2 linked regions of the Homo sapiens genome follow. Each later gene encodes a partner of the first gene's protein in a complex. Each region holds a gene or a part of one and is shown in the gene's direction. Other genes may lie near its edges.

What was found. The genes of interacting proteins can lie anywhere in the genome.
Region 2: the proteins of SUMO1 (region 1) and RANBP2 are in contact, whole or in part, in a crystal structure (PDB 1Z5S), measured with the Homo sapiens proteins. Residues at the interface, in NP_001005781.1 of Homo sapiens: Asp30, Ser31, Ser32, Glu33, Ile34, His35, Phe36, Lys37, Val38, Lys39, Thr41, Thr42, His43, Lys46, Leu47, Ser50, Arg54; in NP_006258.3 of Homo sapiens: Asp2631, Val2632, Leu2633, Ile2634, Val2635, Tyr2636, Glu2637, Leu2638, Pro2654, Thr2656, Cys2659.

The regions. Positions count from the first base shown.
Region 1 is NC_000002.12:202,214,564-202,221,603, reverse strand, and holds part of SUMO1 (small ubiquitin-related modifier 1 isoform a precursor), read left to right. Parts: intron 1-1,497; coding exon 1,498-1,572; intron 1,573-7,040. UniProt on the Homo sapiens protein: Ubiquitin-like protein that can be covalently attached to proteins as a monomer or a lysine-linked polymer.
Region 2 is NC_000002.12:108,778,454-108,785,493, forward strand, and holds part of RANBP2 (E3 SUMO-protein ligase RanBP2), read left to right. Parts: intron 1-2,815; coding exon 2,816-2,976; intron 2,977-3,674; coding exon 3,675-3,948; intron 3,949-4,074; coding exon 4,075-4,409; intron 4,410-5,142; coding exon 5,143-5,448; 3' UTR 5,449-7,040. UniProt on the Homo sapiens protein: E3 SUMO-protein ligase which facilitates SUMO1 and SUMO2 conjugation by UBE2I. Involved in transport factor (Ran-GTP, karyopherin)-mediated protein import via the F-G repeat-containing domain which acts as a docking site for substrates.

The DNA.
Region 1 (7,040 bases):
TTCTTTTAATTGTTGAATGTTAAAGAATTTTGTATTTTAAGTTACTGGCATGAGATACACAGGTAATGGTTATGGTTATTCTTATCAAATACGGATTAACTGCTTGAAATTATTACGGATAATAAGGTATATATCTAAATAAGTGGGTAATTTGGTGGCCAAACTAAGGTGTAGCACATAGAGAAAAAAAGCTACTTTTTTACCACATTATTCATGAAATTTTCCAAGGTACCCCCTTTACTAAAAATGATTTGCTTATTCTTGAGATACTTCATGGTGAAGTTGTTTTAACTAATTTATTCTGTTAACCTCATTTTCATTTCAGTATCTCTTTATTGGAAATTGTTTTGTAACTGTTTTTGTGATCTTTTTTTTTTTTTTTTTGAAGAGATGAGGTCTTGCTATGTTGTCCAGGCTGGCCTCCAACTCCTGGGCTCTCAAGCAGTCCTAGTGCCACAGCCTCTCAAGTATCTTGTCCTCCTATTTTTGTCTCCTCTTTTAAACTTAAGCATTATGCTTCGGATAGTCTAAAATAATTGATTATATAAAACTGATTCGTTTTGACTCCAGAGTACATTAGGCTAATACTTTCTTATTTGATTTTCCTTTCTAAATAGCCTTGCTTGGCTGGGCACTGTGGCTCACGCCTGTAATCCCAGCACTTTGGGAGGCCGAGGTGGGCAGATCACCTGAGGTCGGGAGTTTGAGACCAGCCTGACCAACATGGAGAAACCCTGTCTCTACTAAAAATACAAAATTAGCCGGGTATGGTGGTGCATGCCTGTAGTCCCAGCTACTCGGGAGTCTGAGGCAGGAGAATTGCTTGAACCTGGGAGGCAGAGGTTGCGGTGAGCTGAGATCGAGCCATTGCACTCCAGCCTGGGCAACAAGAGCGAAACTGTCTCAAAAAAATAATAAATAATAGCCTTGCTTATGCTAATATGATTAATTTACATTTCTTAGTACAGTTTTGTAGTTAAAGTAAACTCCTCATGATAGGCTGTGAGAAGATAATCTTGGATTCAGAAGTTTGTCTAAAAATTCATGGAGGATGAACTTCCTTTGTGCTGGTAAGAGCTGGCTGTAGGGCAGTTGTTTCCAAGTTGTTCCTCTGGCCAGTAGTATCGGTACCACCTGGTAATTTGTTAGAAAGAGATTCTTATCCCTACTACAAATGTGCTGAATAAGAAACTGGGTCTTGGGCCCAGCAGTTTGTTTAACACGTCCTTCAGCTGATTTTGATGCGTGGTAAAGTTTTAGACCATTACTATGGGGTATTATAATAAAAGAGACCCCTTTCTTGATTTCTAGTGAATGGCGTTTGGGACAGTAATTGACTTAGGATTTTTTTTTCTTAATTGACTGGCATGGAAAAGAAATGCTGTTTGTATTCTCAGGTGCAGATTTTGCATCCTGAATGAAAGTAATGGATACTCATAAGTGAGTAATTAAAATAGCATGTAGGAACTTTTATCTTGAAATTTAATTTTCTTTCAGGAGGCAAAACCTTCAACTGAGGACTTGGGGGATAAGAAGGAAGGTGAATATATTAAACTCAAAGTCATTGGACAGGTGAGTTTCATTGTTTTTCTCTTTTGAGTCCCCTTCAATGTGAATACTTTTTCACAGGAAAAAAAATTATTTAAGGCAAATTATTTTAAAATGACTATGTATGCATTTTAATTTACTGTGTATGCATCTGTTAGAGGTAGAAGAGGCCGATACTGTTTTTTAAATTACTCTGCCAGGCAGTTTTAGATCATCTTAATTTTTCCAAATAGGAATGTTTTCTTGGTTAGTGTGCTTCAGGGGCAAATACAGTGAATACTATTAAGTGTTAAGGCTAGGGCCAACCTTAAGTAAAAGGTTTATCAGCCCTTTTCCTGACCCTTTTCTGGCCCCCTATTTCCCTAGACTCTAGTCTGTATCTTTTTTTTTTTTGAGATGGAGTCTTGTTCTGTCACCCAGGCTGGAGTGCAGTGGTGCGATCTCGGCTCACTGCAAGCTCCGCCTGCCGGGTTCACGCCATTCTCCTGCCTCAGCCTCCCAAGTAGCTGGGACTACAGGCGCCCGCCACCATGCCCGGCTAATTTTTTTTGTATTTTTAGTAGAGACGGGGTTTCACTGTGTTAGCCAGGGTGGTCTTGATCTCCTGGCCTCGTGATCCGCCAGCCTCGGCCTCCCAAAGTGCTGGGATTACAGGCGTGAGCCACCGCGCCTGGCTCTAGTCTGTATCTTATTGATTCTGAAATGTTAATTAAGGTTAGCTAACAACCGTTGGAGGAATGAATCTACATAGTTACGTGGGTTTTCTAAAGGACAAAAGACAGAGAATTGGTGGAAGGGTGGACTCGCCCAGGATGGAGTGCAGTGGTATTTCTATTGAAGTGTGACAGTACCATTTCCCTATATTCTCCCAAACATGGGATATTAACAGTCTTTAAATTTTGTTCAAATATGCTAGGTAAAACATTTTTGTTTATTTTTCATTTACCTGATTATTAATAAGGTATAATTTTTTTGGTCTGTTACATTTATATTCTTCTGTTAATTGTGTTCATACCCTTTTCCCATTTTTCTGTGATTATCTTATTTTGAAGACTTTTATTTTTTATTTTCAAAATTTTTTAAATTTAAATTTTATTTTGAAATGGAGTTGTGCTCTTGTTGGCAGGCTGGAGTGCAATGGCGTGATCTTGGCTCACTGCACCCTTCACTCCTGGGTTCAGGTGATTCTCCTGCCTCAGCCTCCCGAGTAGCTGGGACTACAGGTGCCTGCCACGAAGCCTGACTAATTTTTTTAAAAAATATTTTTAGTAGAGACGGGGTTTCCCCATGTTGGCCAGGCTGGTCTCGAACTCCTGACCTCAGGTGATCCCCACCCGTCTCGGCCTCCCAGAGTTCTGGGATTACAGGTGTGAGCCACCATGCCGGCTTTATTTTGAAAACTTTTAAAAGATAAAATTCACATACTATAAAATTCACTATTTTAAAGTATATAATTCAGGGGCTTTAGTATTATTCACAAGTGTGTGCAGCCATCACCACTACTAATTCCAGAACATTTGCATTACCCCAAAAAGACACCCTGTACCCATTAGCAGTCATTCCCCATCCTATTTCCTCCAGCCAGTGACAACCATGATTCTACTTTCTGTCTCTATAGGTTTGCCTTTTGTGGACATTACATATAAATGGAATCATAAGATATATGGCTTTTTTTTTTTTTTTTTTTTTTTGAGGCAAGGGTCTCGCTGTGTCACCCAGGCTGGAGTGCAGTGGCCTGATCTCAACTCACTGCGACCTCAACCTCCTGGGTTCAAGCGACCCTCCTGCCATAGCCTCCTGAGTAGCTGGGATTTCAGGTGTGCACCACCATGCCCAGCTAATTTTTGTATTTTTAGTAGAGATGGGGTTTCGCCATGTTGGCCAGGCTGGTCTCAAACTCCTGACCTCAGATGATCCGCCTACCTCGGCCTCCCACAGTGTTGGGATTACAGGCATGAGCCACCATGCCTAGCTTTGATATGTGACTTTTTATTCTGGTTTGTTTCTTCTTTTCTGCCTTGCTTCCCTGTTCCTCTTCCCCTCCCTCCCCTCCCCCCCTCCCCATCCCCGTCTCCCTCTCCAGGGTTCTCGCTATGTTGCTCAGGCTGGTCTTGAACTCTTGGGCTTAAGTGATTCTCCCTCTTTGGCCTAAAGTTCTGGGATTATAGGTGTGAGCCACTATGCCTGGCCTGGCTTCTTTGTTTTAGCATGTTTTCAAGGTTCATTCATGCTGTAGCATGTATCAGTACTATATTCCTTTTAATGGCTGAATTCTGTTCCATTATATGGGTAGAATATATTTTGTTTTCCATTTATCAGTTGATATTTAGTTTGTCCCCATATTTTGGCTACTATTAATAATGTTGCTGTGAACATTCATGTGTGTTTTTGTATGGACATATGTTTTCAGCTCCCTTGGATATATACCTAGGAGTGGAATTGCTGGGTCTAGTATGCAACTATATGTTTTACTTTTTGAGGAACTGCCAAACTGTTTTCAGCAGTGGCCCTACCATCTTACATTCCTAGCAGCAACATATGAGGGTTTCAGTTTTTCCATATTCTGGTCAACACTTGTAATTATCCGTATTTTTGGTTATAATCCTAGTGGGTGTGAAGTGGTATCTCACTGTGGTTTCAACTTGCTCTTTCCTGATGGCTAATGATGCCAAGCATTTTTTTATGTACTTATTGGCCATTAGTACATCTTCTTTGGAAAAATGAAGTTCTTTAGATCTTTTGCCCATTTTTAAATTGGGTTAGTTGTCTTTTTATTGTTGAGTGGTAATATGTCTTTTATTCTGGGTATTAGACCTTTATCATATATATGATTTGCATGGATTTTCTCCTATCTTTGAGTTGTCTTTTCACTTTCTTGGTTTTATTCTTTGCAGCGTAAAGTTTTTAATTTTGGTAAATTAAGTTCATCTGTTTTTTCTTTTGTTGCTTGTAATTTATCTAAGAAACCATTACCTAATCCAGGGTCACAAAGGTTTACGCTTGTGGTTTAAGAGTTTTAAGGCTGGGCACAATGGCTCACACCTGTAATCTCAGCATTTTGGGAGGCCAAGGTGGGCAGATTGCTTGAGCTCAGGAGCTGGAGACCAGCCTGGGCAACATGGCGAAACCCCATCTCTACAAAAAATATAAAAAATTAGTAGGGCGTGGTGGCACATGCCTGTAGTCCCAGCTACTCAGGAGGCTGAGCAGGGAGAATCACTTGAGCCTGGGAGGTCAAGGCTGCAGTAAGCTGTGATCACGTGACTGTACTCCAGTCTGGGTGACAGAGTGAGACCCTGTCTCAAAAAAAAAAAAAAAAAAGTTTTATGGTTTTATTTATAGTTTTAGCTCTTACATTTAAATCTTTCATCATTTTGAATAATTTTTTATGGGTGTTTGTCCCAGACCATTAGTTGAAAAGACTGTCCTTTTCTCACTGAATTGTTCTGGTATCCTTGTCAAAAAATTGACTATAGATATAAGGGTTTTTTCTTGGCTCTCAATTTTATGCCATTGATCTATCTATATGTCCATATGCCATGGAATGTCTTTTTAAGAATTATTAATTTGTGGGATTTTTAAAAATATTGTCTTCATTTTCCTTGTCTGTTACATGTTATGAATATTTCCTCCAGTATGTCTTAACTTTTGTTTATGGCATCTTTTACTATACAGACGTTTTATGTTTTTATTAAGTCAAATTTATCCACCTCTTTTTTTTATGGTTTCTAGGTTAAAATCATGCTTTGCAATAGGGCATCCCAAGGCCAAAATTAGGGGAAAAAAATTCTCCCTTGAGGGGAAAATATTGAGAATTTTTTTTTTTTTTTTTTTGATGTGGAGCCTTGTCCTGTCATGCAGGCTGGAGTGCAGTGGTACTTCCGGCTCACTGCAACATCCGCCTCCCAGGTTCAAGCACTTCTCCTGCCTCAGCCTCCCGAGTAGTTGGGATTACATGCAACTGTCACCACACCCGGCTAATTTTTTATATTTTTAGTAGAGATAGGGTTTCATCATGTTGGCCAGGCTGGTCTTGAACTCCTGACCTCGTGATCTGCCCGGCTTGACCTCCCAAAGTGTTGGGATTACAGGAGTGAGCCACTGCACCTGGCCAAAAAAATTTTAATGTTAGCTCTTTAATTCATCTGCAAGTGATTTTTTTTTTTTTTTTTTGAGATGGCGTCTCACTCTGTTGCCCAGGCTGGAGTACAGTGGCGAGATCTAGGTTCACTGCAGCCTCCGCGTCCTGGGTTCAAGCGATTCTCCTGCCTCACCCTCCCGAGTAGCTGGGATTACAGGCATGCGCCACCACGCCTGGCTAATTTTTTTGTATTTTTAGTAGAAATGGCGTTCACCATGTTGGTCAGGCTGGTCTCGAACTCCTGAACTCAAATGATCCTCCTGCTTTGGCCTCCCAAAGTGTTGGGATTATAGGCATGAGCCACCATGCCCAGCCTGGAATTGATTTTAATGTATAGCATGAGGTTTGCTGTAGAATTTTATCTGTTTATGAAATGATCTATGTGAAGATAATTTTATTTCTTCATAGTTACAGTCACAAGAAAAATACTGTAAATGTGCAGCTTCTGCAAATACACATTTGTGAATGTGATATGTAGTCATGAAGTTTGGCTTTGAAAGTTTACATTATGCAAGTAACAGTATTTTTTCTGAGGATTGGCTGGCTGATAGTTTGTTTCACAATCTGAGCAGAATAAAATAATTTTTGGTCTCACAAATCAGTTTGACTAACTCAGGTTCTTACTCATTTTACTCATGTGAGAGAAACCAGATTCCATGTGGTGATTTTTTTTTTTTTTTTTTTTTTGAGATGGAGTACTGTTCTGTTTCCCAGGCTGGAGTGCAGTGGCGTGTTCTTGGCTCACTGCAACCTACACCTCCTGGGTTCAAGCAATTCTTCTGCCTCAGCCTCCTGAGTAGCTGGGACTACAGGTGTGTGCCACCATGCCTGGCTAATTTTTGTATTTTTAGTAGAGACGGGGTTTCACTATACTGGCCAGGCTGGTCTTGAACTCCTGACCTTGTGATCCGCCTGCCTTGGTCTCCCAAATTGCTGGGATTACAGGCATGAGCCACTGCGCTCAGCCCCATGTGGTGATTTTTTATGGCAGGAATAAATTTCTCAGTCGCTTATTGTATAAAATTGAATTTTATACAATTAATTATTATCTAATTAACTGCTTTTCTCCTAGGCGACCACCTTCAGTGACACTTCACTTGGGGGGACAGACTTTTTGTTTTGAGTTGCTATTGGGATAAATAAAAGATGCGATAGTTCATCTTTTATTTTGACAATAGAATGGCAAATGAAGGAATGCATTTACTTAGACTTTTACTTATACTGATAATTTTAACACTCAAGACTGATTAACTTTGTTTTACTCGGTTTCTTTTGTAATGGGTATACAGTAACTTTGAGGATGATTACACTGTTTTAAGAAAACCTGTTAAGAATGCTAAAAAGAATATTG
Region 2 (7,040 bases), about 93 Mb from region 1:
CCAGATAATTTAGAGTTTCAATCTTATTTTCTCTAATGTCTCAAAGCTTGCCAAATTAATTATTCACTTACAGTAACATTACTGTAGGCCCAGTTATGACCTGTGAGACCCAGATATTGATATATTACAAATACTTTTACAAGTGGGTGATTCTAATGTGTTCCCAGGGTAGAGAACCACTATTTTGAAATAATTTTGAATTCTTCTGCCACATGTCCCTTGGGGTTATTTTTTAAATTTTTGCTTTTGGCAAAAAAGTTGCTGAACAATTTTGTTTTTGTTTTTGTTTTTGAGACAGGATGTCACTCTGTTGCCCAGGCTGGAGTGCAGTGGCATGAACACAGCTCACTGCTGCCTTGACCTCCTGGGCTCTAAAGCAATCCTTCCACCTCAGCTTCCCAAGTAGCTGGGACCACAGGTGTGTACCACCATGCCTAGCTAATTTTTACATTTTTTGTAGAGACAGGGGTCTCACTATGTTACCCAGGCTGGTCTCAAACTCCTGGGCTCAAGCAGTCCTGCCACCTTGGCCTTGCACAGTGCTGGGATTGTAGGCATGAGCCACTGCACCTGGCCCTGAACAGTTATTTTTGAGCCCCCAAGTTGGTATCTCATCCAGATCAGTGGTTACTGTTCTCAGGAAGTTCCCATGCAACCTGTGGCTTTTGTTCTCAGATCATTCCTTTGCAATATGTCCTTAAGAATTTTTGTCTTTCTGTCTCTTTTTTTTGAGACGATCATTCTGTTGCCCAGGCTGGAGTGCAGTGGCGCAGATCTCAGTTTACTGCAACCTCTGCTTGCTAGGTTCAAGTGATCTCCTGCCTCAGCCTCCTGAGTAGCTGGGATTACAGGCATGCACTGCAACACCCCGCTAATTCTTTTAGTATTTTTAGTAGAGATGGGGTTTCGCCATGTTGGCCAGGCTTGTCTCGAACTCCTGACCTCAAGTGACCAGCCCGCCTCGGCCTCCTAAAGTGCTGGGATTACAGGCATGAGCCACCACACCCGGCCCTCTCTCCTCTTTAAAAACATTTTTTTTTCCCCTCCATTAAATCTGTCTGAAAGAGAGTTGATTTTTTATTGTGTTCTTTAAGGTACTGAGTTATGTATCCTGTGACATTTTTTCTTTTTCATGAGAGTTTTTAGCAGAAGGTGTAGGGTTCTTTAAGACAGTGATTCAGCAAGTGATAAAAAGTTGAGAGGTGTTTCTTTCCTCTAAGATAGTGGGGACTTGGTCATCTAAATTGAGGTATGGGATGGAGAAGTTTCTAGTTTTCACCTTCTTGCAGGTATGCGAGAGTGAGACCATCATTGTTCCCCCATACAGAAGTAGGATGCTTAACAATCTAATACCCTTTGGGCAGTTGAAGTCAGTGAGATTCTCCCAAGGCTGCTTTCCACCAGCCCAACCAAGAAATCTACATTCCAGCATTAGCTTCTTCAGGAAGAAGTAGAGATGCAGAAATTATAAACATGTTTAGGCCATTGTGGCTAATTTGGAAGTAGCAGGTTTGGCCTGCTGAGCTAAGTTTACAAAATTTCAAGGTGGGTACTTGAAATTTTAGAAGTAGGTAAAAAGAACCTACTTCTTTACTTGGAAGTCCTTGTGTAGTTTAGTATTAGGAAGTTTATCCAAGGCAGTGACAGTCTTATCTTTGTATCGCTAAGCATAACAATAATAAATGTACTCTGTACTCAACAGTATGAGTTGAATTTACTAGCTTTTTTTTTTTTCCTTTTTTTCCTTTTTTTTTTTGGTGACAGAGTCTTGCTCTGTCACCCAGGCTGGAGTACAATGGCACGATCTCTGCTCATTGCAACCTCCGCCTCCCAAGTTCAAGCGATTCTCCTGCCTTAGCTTCCTGAGTAGCTGGGATTACAGGCACCCGCCACCACGCCCGGCTAATTTTTTTTTTTTTTTTTTTTTTAAAGACAGAGTCTTGCTCTGTCGTCCAGGCTGGAGTGCAGTGGGGCGGTATCTGATCACTGCAACCTCTGCCTCTCAAGTTAAAGTGATTCTCCTGCCCCAGCCTCCTGAGTAGCTGGGATCAGTCACCCATGACCACACACTGCTAACTTTTTTTTTTTTTTTTAAAGACAGAATCTTGCTCTGTTGCCCAGGCTGGAGTGCAGTGGGGCAATCTCAGCTCACTGCAACTTCTGCCCCCCAGGTTGAAGCGATTCTTCTGCCTCAGCCTCTCAAGTAGCTGGGACCACAGGCGCATACCACCACTCCCGGCTTTTCTTTTCTTTCTTTCTTTCTTTTTTTTTTTGAGACGGAGTTTCACTCTTGTTGCCCAGGCTGGAGTGCAATGGTGCCATCTTGGCTCACCGCAACCTCCGCCTCCTGGGTTCAAGCGATTCTCCTGCCCCAGCCTCCCGAGTAGCTGGGATTACAGGCATATGCCACCATGCCTGGTTAATTTTGTATTTTTAGTAGAGACGGGGTTTCTCCATGTTGGTCAGGCTGGTCTTGAACTCCTGACCTCAGGAGATGCGCTCACCTCGGCCTCACAAAGTGCTGGGATTACAGGCGTGAGCCACTGCGCCCAGCCTAATTTTTGTATTATTAGTAGAGATGGGGTTTCACCATGTTGGCCAGGCTGGTCTCGAACCCCTGACCTCAGGTGACCTCGGCCTCCCAAAGTGCTGGGATTACAGGCGTGAGGAATTTACTAGAATAATATAATTTTAAACATTTAAAATTGATGTACATATTACATCATCAGGAATTAGAGGGATTGATAAAATAAGAGGGGGATGAAAAATGTAAAAAATAGATACTAGTGTTTAAATATCCTGATTTATTCATCAGATAAAAATTTCCAATGGGCAAATACTGGAGCAGCTGTGTTTGGAACACAGTCAGTCGGAACCCAGTCAGCCGGTAAAGTTGGTGAAGATGAAGATGGTAGTGATGAAGAAGTAGTTCATAATGAAGATATCCATTTTGAACCAATAGTGTCACTACCAGAGGTAAATGTTAAGGAATTAACCTTTTACTAATAACTTATTTTTCATTTTTAAGTTTTACCCTGGCTTGATCTGTCAGGGTATAATTGTTTGCATTTAAGAATGTTTACTGTTTGAAATGGAAGCTCTATTTATTAGATGTCTAGCCTTTAAGTATAAATTATCTTTTTACAGTTTTTACATAAATATTGGTTTGTAAATTCTATATGTAATTATTGGTAAGAAATAATTTTTTCTTATGTTTCTAGAATATCATGTTTGTTTTTATAACATGATTCTGGGGAAAAATTAACCTCATACTCACTAAAGTCCTTTCAATAAATGTTAACCTTGTATGTTTTTTGGACAAGAACATTGTTCTAGGAAAATTACTTTGTCATTTTTTAACCTCAGTCAGTAGCTAATATTTCTCTTCAGTAGCAAACACTTTTGAAACCTCTCTGTCCTATAAAGAAAAGCATTTAATTTCCAAAGGGAAAATGAATATTATATAAAAGAAAATGTTTAATGATAAATCAGGTCTTTACTCCCTCAGCCAAATCAGATATATTCCTAGCCCTAAGATATATAACCAGTTATCACATTAACAAATTCTCTTTGTCATCACAAAGAAAATGCCTTAAAAGAATTTGGATCTTTGAAATTTGTCATGGAATTTATTATAAGCAGCAGCTTATAGAGAATTTCATCTCCTATTATAGGTAGAAGTAAAATCTGGAGAAGAAGATGAAGAAATTTTGTTTAAAGAGAGAGCCAAACTTTATAGATGGGATCGGGATGTCAGTCAGTGGAAGGAGCGCGGTGTTGGAGATATAAAGATTCTTTGGCATACAATGAAGAATTATTACCGGATCCTAATGAGAAGAGACCAGGTTTTTAAAGTGTGTGCAAACCACGTTATTACTAAAACAATGGAATTAAAGCCCTTAAATGTTTCAAATAATGCTTTAGTTTGGACTGCCTCAGATTATGCTGGTGAGTTTTTACATTCAAATGCTACTTTTCATTTTTTGGACTTTTCTAAAATCTATAACAAACAAAACAACTTATAACAGTTATTTTAATACTAAGGTCACTGCTTCCCCTTTCCCTCCCTGCCAGATGGAGAAGCAAAAGTAGAACAGCTTGCAGTGAGATTTAAAACTAAAGAAGTAGCTGATTGTTTCAAGAAAACATTTGAAGAATGTCAGCAGAATTTAATGAAACTCCAGAAAGGACATGTATCACTGGCAGCAGAATTATCAAAGGAGACCAATCCTGTGGTGTTTTTTGATGTTTGTGCGGACGGTGAACCTCTAGGGCGGATAACTATGGAATTATTTTCAAACATTGTTCCTCGGACTGCTGAGAACTTCAGAGCACTATGCACTGGAGAGAAAGGCTTTGGTTTCAAGAATTCCATTTTTCACAGAGTAATTCCAGATTTTGTTTGCCAAGTAGGTATTATTAAGTACATACCACAATTGAGGTCTTGAAGAGTGCACCACACTAATGGGAAATTTGAGTGTTTTTCCTTGACCTCATCCTGTAGTTTTGTTAAAGATTTCTTTAGGTTTTCCACACATGGAATCACATGGCATCACTACCCATTCCCTGCTCCTGCCTAAAACTTTCAACCTAAAATAATTGAGGCTGGGCACAATGACTCATACCTGTAATTCCAGCACTTTAGGAGGCCAAGGCAGGCAGATTGCTTGAGCCCCGGAATTTGAGACCAGCCTGGGTAACATGGCAAAAATCTCGTCTGGACAAAAAAATACAAAAATTAGCCAGGTGTGGTGGTGTGCGTCTGTGATCCCAGCTACAAGGAAGCTGAGGTGGGAGCATCCAGGAGGCCAAGGCTGCAGTGAGCTAGGTTTGCACCACTGCACTCCATCCTGGGCGACAGAGTGAGACAGCCTGTCATTAAAAAAAAAAAAAAAAAAAAAAAAAAAAATCAAATTTTCAGTACTTGAGATCTAGTAGAAACTAAGGGATGGGAAAAACCTTTTCATTTTTCATCTTCTTTCCAACAATATGAATTTCTTAGTTTTCAAACTATACTCAGGAAAGCTGGGCTTTAGGATTTAACATGTAGTGATGAGTTCTGTGTGTATTTTAATATTTTACTCAGGATTCCTATTAATTGAAAAAAATTTTTAACTTTTTTATTATAAATCTTTTTTTCAGGGAGGAGATATCACCAAACATGATGGAACAGGCGGACAGTCCATTTATGGAGACAAATTTGAAGATGAAAATTTTGATGTGAAACATACTGGTCCTGGTTTACTATCCATGGCCAATCAAGGCCAGAATACCAATAATTCTCAATTTGTTATAACACTGAAGAAAGCAGAACATTTGGACTTTAAGCATGTAGTATTTGGGTTTGTTAAGGATGGCATGGATACTGTGAAAAAGATTGAATCATTTGGTTCTCCCAAAGGGTCTGTTTGTCGAAGAATAACTATCACAGAATGTGGACAGATATAAAATCATTGTTGTTCATAGAAAATTTCATCTGTATAAGCAGTTGGATTGAAGCTTAGCTATTACAATTTGATAGTTATGTTCAGCTTTTGAAAATGGACGTTTCCGATTTACAAATGTAAAATTGCAGCTTATAGCTGTTGTCACTTTTTAATGTGTTATAATTGACCTTGCATGGTGTGAAATAAAAGTTTAAACACTGGTGTATTTCAGGTGTACTTGTGTTTATGTACTCCTGACGTATTAAAATGGAATAATACTAATCTTGTTAAAAGCAATAGACCTCAAACTATTGAAGGAATATGATATATGCAATTTAATTTTAATTCCTTTTAAGATATTTGGACTTCCTGCATGGATATACTTACCATTTGAATAAAGGGACCACAACTTGGATAATTTAATTTTAGGTTTGAAATATATTTGGTAATCTTAACTATTGGTGTACTCATTTATGCATAGAGACTCGTTTATGAATGGGTAGAGCCACAGAACGTATAGAGTTAACCAAAGTGCTCTTCTCTAGAATCTTTACACCTCCTGTGTGGTTACAAGTTAACTTTGTAAGTAGCGTACCTTCCTTCCTTAAAATATCTAGCTTCCTGTGCCCTTTCATAGATATTCGATTAATTTTTACATTTTAAACAAGTTGACTATTTCCTTTAGGGGTTTTGTTTCAAACTTTTCTGTCATCTGTCTCTACTACCTCAGAAACTGCAGCTTGGTTCTGATGATAGAAATTGAATTTTTCCTTGTAGTTATTGTGATAAAGTATGAATATTTTTAGAAAGTCTATACCATGTTCTTTCGTTAAAGATTTGCTTTATACAAGATTGTTGCAGTACCTTTTTCTGGTAAATTTTGTAGCAGAAATAAAATGACAATTCCTAAGAGCCACTGACATCCAAAAAATTCATTACTTACGCTTCGGGTTCATTCTAAAGTAAGGAAGACAATTTAAAGGCAGTAAATTCAAACTGCTGCATAATTTCCAGAGCTCCTAGTTTCTCAAGTTTGATACACACCAAAAACGTATTTGGAAATGGCTTGTATCAAATGTTAGGCAAATTGCTAAAGAAAAGAGGATGTTCTTATTGGCCTACTCAATATGGAACTACAAAGAATCCAGGTAGAACACAAAATTTTGTATATTGCAATTATGAATATTGACTGTCTTCCACCCATCTGTGTTCTTTCGGGTGAAATTACCTCATTTTATTTAGTGAGGAAAGACAGGTTTATTCCCTGTTACATGGGGATTTGGAAATTGGGTATCCTAAAGCAAGTAACTGTTCAACCACCAGTCAAAAGAGGGGAGGGATGTTGTGCGAGTAATGAGTGATGGTATACCATCACCATTCCACTCGGCCACAAAGCCAGATACTTGAAATAAACCTACTCCAAATGTATCAGTTCAGTCTTGAACCATGGATTACATATGTTTACACTAAATATTTCAAATTGGCTTATTTGGAAATCTATGTAATATAAACTGATGTAAAGTGTGTTGTAACTTTTCAGCTGAGACAGTTGATGCCTTCGTCATGATTTTAGAATAAATTCTTAAGTTAATGCAAGTGCTTTTTAAGAGACTT